2 separate regions of the Homo sapiens genome follow, and region 2 is linked to region 1. Evidence: fine-mapped expression QTL. A gene starts in region 1. The other region holds a variant in brackets. All regions are shown on one strand. Distances are from middle to middle.

Region 1 (2,906 bases):
ATCTCTGACCACAGGTGATGCTCACTCACACCAGGCTCTGGGCTGGAGTCGAGGCATAAGCACTGCCTTGACTCCCGCCCGGCCTACCATGTCCAATGGTGGGAGGGGAGATGACGGGGATGTCCCCGCTTCCCCATTCCCCATCTCTTTGGCGGTTCCTATCTGAATCTAGAAGTGCAAAGCCACCCCTAGCAAGCTACTTCTCCTAGTCGCTTTCCTCCTTGTAAACTGGGGGTGCCAACATCCCCCCCTTACTTCAGGGGCCTTTCAAGAATGTACAGAGTGGCTGGGCGCGGTGACTCATGCCTGTAATCCCAGCACTTTGGGAGGCTGAGGTAGGCGAATCACCTGACAGGGTCAGGAGTTCTAGCCCAGCTTGGCCAACATGGCGAAACCCCGTCTCTACTAAAAATACAAAAATTAGCCGGGCGTGGTGGTGGGAGCCTGGCACGAGAATCGCTTGAACCTGGGAGGCAGAGGTTGCAGTGATCACGCCACTGCACTCCAGCCTGGGCGACAGAGAGACTCTGTCTCAAAGAAACACCACCAAAGAATGTACGGAGTGGGAGTCAGGAGCTTTGGAAAGCGTATTGGCCAGTTGTTGCATAGGTGCGTTACGTGAGCGAGCCAAGAAGGGCTCCCTACAGCATGTGTGCGCGCGTCCATTCATTTGTTCGTTCATTCGTTCATTCATTCAGTAATTCATTCATGCATTCGACATTTATTCAGCACCTGGGTGAGACACACACTGAGATTCAATAAACTGCTGATCAAAGTTGTGTCTAGACGTCCAAGGGTTAAGCCGCCGGCGCGGGCCCCTCTGCGTCCCCCTCCGCCCCCGCCGGGCGTGGGGAAGGCGGGAAGGCGGCGCGGCGGGTGCCAAAGTCGGAACCTGCTCGTCGGCAGCTCCCGGCGCTGCCTTGACTCGCAGCCAGGCCTGGCGCGGCCGCCGGCTGTGGAATGTGTGAGCGCCATGTGTCACCGCCCCAGACTGTGGGAAAACGCTGCTCCGCTCACCTCCCAGCAGCTGCCCCGCGCCCGCCCGGGCGGGAGCCGGGAAACAGGAGCCGCCTGCCGCGGAGGCCGCCCGGGGGCACTTCCGAGCGCGCGCCGCCTGCCCGGCCGCCCCCGCGCCCGCCGCGTCTCCCCGCCCACACCCCGCTGCCACCCGGCCCCGGGCGCCACCCGCGGAGCAGGCGGCGGGAGGGACAGCCCGGCACGGCCCCTTTCCTGCCCTTCACACCCCTTCTGCTTCTCAGGGGACGCTGGTCCACAGACCGAGGCCCCGTTGCGCGCGGCCGCCTTCGGAGCGCCGCCCTCCTCCCGAAACCGGCCGGGGCGAGTGGCTGCAAGAAGCTGCGGTTTGGCCCGCGGGAGAGGGGGGCTTCCCCGCTGGGGTTGTCTGACGCGAACGCCTTCCTGGCCCCAGCCAGGCGCCCTGAGGTCAGGCCCAGTGGTGAGAGAGCTCTGAACGGGAGGCCCCACGCTGCCTGCTCCCCCAAATCAGAAACAGCCTCCCCCACCGGGGCGAGGCAAGGGATCTGCACCACCCCACGCGCTCCCGCCTGCACGGTAGCCTAGAGCCTGGTGTGAGCGGGAATCACATGTGCTCACACATCACCCAGGCAAGGTCTTTGAAGCCCAGCCATGCGGGCAGACGTATTCAAGGTCACCCTGCTGGGTGGCGGCAGAGCTCCTGTTGGAATCCACGCTCAGAGGACCTTCTGCCGAGCCCCAGCCCCAAAGGCATGGCGCCCTTTCTCTGCAGCATGGTGCCCCTCGTCGAGTTCCTGCCCCATAGAGAAGTTGGGAATGGGGCAGACGGGGGTGGGGGGAAATCATGGGTCCTGGGACCCCGACAGCTTTGCCTAAACTCAGCCTCATGCTGCGAGACGTCCCAGTCCGTCACCTCAGCCTGATTTTCTGGGGGTGCCCCACCTGACAGGCCTGGTAGTGAAGCCCCCATTGTATCCAGCCCTCTACGAGCACCTGGCATTTGTGTGCCTTGTTCCGGCTTGCCACCTCCTCTGTGGAAGTCTTCCCAGATTTGCCCAATCATTGCTTCCCGGTTCTCCGGCGGCCTTTGACAAACGCCTGTTTATGACGTTTGTGGCCCCCTGTAACTCATGGCCTACCTGTCCTCTCCTCCCTTCCGGAGTTTCCTGAGGGCAGAGACTGTGTTGCCCTCCTTTTTGATTTCCACACAAATGATTATTTGAGAACTCTGCTTATGGCAGCTGCTCTGTTTGTTGGCTGAATGTTATGCAATTTACCACTGGCTAGGAATCTCACCAGATGTGTGACCTTGGGCAAGTTGCTTAATCTAAGCTTCGGTTTTCTCATCTGTAAAATGGAGATCAACTGATACTGCGTCTAAAGTGACTTGTATAGTGGCTGGCACAAAGCAGATGCTGTGTGTGTGTATGAATGATTGCTAAAATACCATAGACTGGTGGCTTAAACAATAGTCATTTATTTTCTCCTGGCTCTGGAGGCTGGGAGATCCAAGATCAAGATGATGGCGAATTAGGTTGTTAGTGAGGGTGCTCTTCCTGGCTTGCAGAAGGCTGTCTGCTCACTGTGTCGTCATGTGACCACAGAGAGAGAGCAAGTCTGTTCTTATGAAGACACCAATCCTATCAGATTAGGGCCCCACCCTTATGATCTCAGTTAACCTTAATTACTTCTATAAAGGCCAGGTCTCCAAATACAGTCACACGGGGAGCTAGGGCTTCAACCTATGGCTTTTGGGGGATACAGTTCAGTCCATAGCAGTGGGGAAAGGATGTGACTCAGTCTAGAGAGACTCAAGGAGGGAATGCTTAGATAGGAGCATGGAGGGCGTGCCTGGTGAAGGGAACAGTATGGCACAGCTTCAGAGGCAAGGGTGAGCCAGCAGCAAGGGG
Region 2 (2,906 bases), 60 kb after region 1:
TCAGAAGAGTTCCTCGATCTTTCCTTGACTTTCATAACTGACACTTTTGATTGGATGTGCTGATTATTTCGTAGAATGTCTCTCAGTTTGGTTTTGTCGAATGTTTTCTCCTGATTAGATTGAGAGGTGTATTTTTGACAAGATATTTACATCTGATCAGGTGGTGCATGATTTCTACTTGACCCATTATTGGTGATGTTCACTGTAGGTTTTTTTTGGTTTTGCTTTTTTTTTTTTTTTTTTTGAGACTGGGTCCACTCTGTCACCTAGGCTAGAGTGCAGTGCCATGATCTCGGCTCCCTACAGCCTCGACCTCCCAGGCTCAGGTGATCCTCCTACCTCAGCCTCCCAAGTAGCTGGGGCTACAGGTACACGCCACCACACCTAGGTAACTTTTTGTATTTCTGTAGAGATGGGGCTTTGCCATATCACCCAGGCTGGTCTCAAACTCCTGGGCTCAAGTGCCCCACAAGTCTTGGCCTCCCAAAGTGCTGAAATTGCAGGCATGAGCCACCGCGCCCAGCCAATGTTCACTTTGATTATTCAGTTGAGGTGGTATTTGTCAGGACTATTCATTGTAAAATTACTCTTTTTCCCTTTGTCGTTAATAAGAATTTGGCTGGAGGTACTCTGAAAGTATGAAATTTCCCCATTTCTTAGTAAACATTCACCCACTAGTTCTAACATCTACTGATGTTTCTTGGCTGAATATCACTATGATGATTGCTAAATGGTGATTCTAATTCCATTATGTCTACTTTTACCAGTTGTCATTTTACTATAAAGACAGCTTTCTCTTCTTTCTGTGTATTTGTTTGTATCAGTGTGGATTTACAGATTTCTATTTTACTCAAAAGTTACAACTATTATCATTATTACTTATTTTGATAAATAAATTGTCCCAGGTTTGACCAGCAGGCGCCCTTTCAAGCCAGTTTCTATGTCTTTGTAACATGCTCTCACCATTCGTTGAGAGGCTGTGAGTCTTTGGAGTGGTAGTTCTGCCAAGCTCAACGAAAAGAGATCTCAGAGTCTAAAGACCTGGGTTGTGGTCTTCTTGGCTTCTTCCATTCCTAGTTGGGTATCACTGGGGGAGTGGTCCTTCTGTTCTAAGGTTTAAAATGGGGATAATCAGTCGCTACTGCCATCTAAAGTGGTTGCTGTGAAATTCATCCCAAAGGGAGAGATTTTAAGATAGCCAACTTCCCTTCCTAGAATCTTTCCAGAATTATTCTGTGCACTGATATTGCATGATGGCCCAATCAGCTGATGAGGTGCCGCTTGAAACATCTGTCTGCCTGTATTGTTTGTGGCCTGTGAGAGTTATTTGTTTCAATCAAATAAACATATGCTTAGCTTAAACGGCTTTTCCCTCTC[A/C]TAGGTATTTGATGCAATGCAGACTGGAATCCTCCCCACAAGGATGCCCTGGCCTGAGTGGCACAGAGATCAATGCAGCAGTCATTTCCTGGGCGGGGAAAGCCCATCCACAGTGGCCCTGGAATGATGCTGGTCTTACCTTCTATTCCTAGGAAGGCCCTATCTCAAGTGGCTCTGGTCCATGCAAACAGATGGAAACGGGTGTGGGGAAGCACAGGCCTCCTACTCATGTTAAGAGAGCTGCTCAGAGGCAGGAATCCAGAACCAGGAATGTCCCCAGTGGCTGCCCAAGGTACAAGTGGCAGGCAGCGGGGAGAATGGCATGTGAAGTCATTTGTAACCTGGCCCCAGCTTGGTTTCCAAGTCTCAGAGGAGATTATGGATATGGTAGTGCCTGGCTCAGTGCTTAAAATCCATTCTCCTGCTATTTCCCTCACCTACACTCAGCCCCACAAGCCGAGATGTTTGCTGGACATTTCAGGCACTGCCACCCAGTTCTGTCTACCTTACCTGCTAACACCTGTTGACCATCCTTCATGTGAAGGCTTCCCCAAATACTTCCCAATCAAAACACTAAAAGGCAGACCTGAAATTAATAAAAATGTTAATTAAATCTGTACAACAGAAAGCATAATGCCAGTCTTTTTAATTATGAAATGTAGCATTCATATAAATTTCATTGCTTTTGAAAACAATCTATGGCTAGATTCTCCTGGGTTTGTATGATGATTACTGAAAACTGTAGAAAATCTAAAATCAAGCAAGTTGTTTATAGGCAATTACTTTCAGAAGCAAAAATTATAAAAGAACCATGAGATTTTTAAAGAGAAAAAATTACATTTGATATGAGATAATCATGCATTTTAAGATGTTTAAAATGACATGGAGTGGGGTCCCCAGACCAGGAGAGCTGAGGGCTTATGAAGGACCTAAGGGAGTGAGACCTGTTATGTAATAAGCCCCCATTCTGGGGGCAGCACCACAGAGGCGGGACCCCAGAAGTAGAAGAAGAGCCCTCCTGCACTGGGTGGTGAAGTTGGTATCAGCCCCTAGTTTGTGACCCTGGACAGATTTCTCTGCTCTCCAGCCCTCAGAGTCCTCAATAAAACAAAAACATATGCAAATATACAAAATTCCTTGCTCTCTTGTACCTCTGAAAACTCTCCCTGAAGAAGTTGAACTACCTGCTCTCTCTCTGTCCTGAAGACTCTAAAATTCTATATGTCGTCCCCTGAGCTTTGACTCCAGGAGCTGTTTATTTTGAGACTCACTTTCTGCATAGTCCATAATCACGGATTCAGCCTCTCTCACTGCTGCTGTCTCCCCTGGAGAGGAAGTGGAGCAGTCAGGTTTTGTGAGCTGGCATTCTCCCTCCCTTTGAACGTAATTGCGGCCCTGCCCTGGGGACTGGATAGAGAGAAAGGTAGGCTTTTTCCCCAGTCCATTAGTATACTGGTTTGTAGCTCTTGCCTTTAGGAAGTATATCAAAGAGAGGAAGAAATGAAGAAAAGTTATTTTGCAAAAGTGAA

The links.
Region 2: its variant is fine-mapped to the expression of LINC02028 in nucleus accumbens (GTEx, PIP above 0.99). The same link has a PIP of 0.9 or more in anterior cingulate cortex, caudate, nasal epithelium, substantia nigra and thyroid.

Annotation. Positions count from the first base shown.
Region 1 is chr3:194,069,359-194,072,264 of GRCh38, reverse strand. It overlaps LINC02028 (long intergenic non-protein coding RNA 2028), which reads left to right and starts at 1,295. Exons shown (of 3, transcript NR_136179.1): 1 at 1,295-1,443. LOC102724877 reads right to left here and starts at 2,176. Exons shown (of 6, transcript XR_002959666.2): 1 at 1,990-2,176. RefSeq lists a silencer at 1,098-1,277.
Region 2 is chr3:194,009,053-194,011,958 of GRCh38, reverse strand. The region is part of intron 2 of LINC02028 (long intergenic non-protein coding RNA 2028); the gene reads left to right. Among named protein-coding and RNA genes, the nearest start is that of LINC02026, 6.8 kb to the right of the region's middle. The variant A/C (reference allele first, on the strand shown) is at 1,378.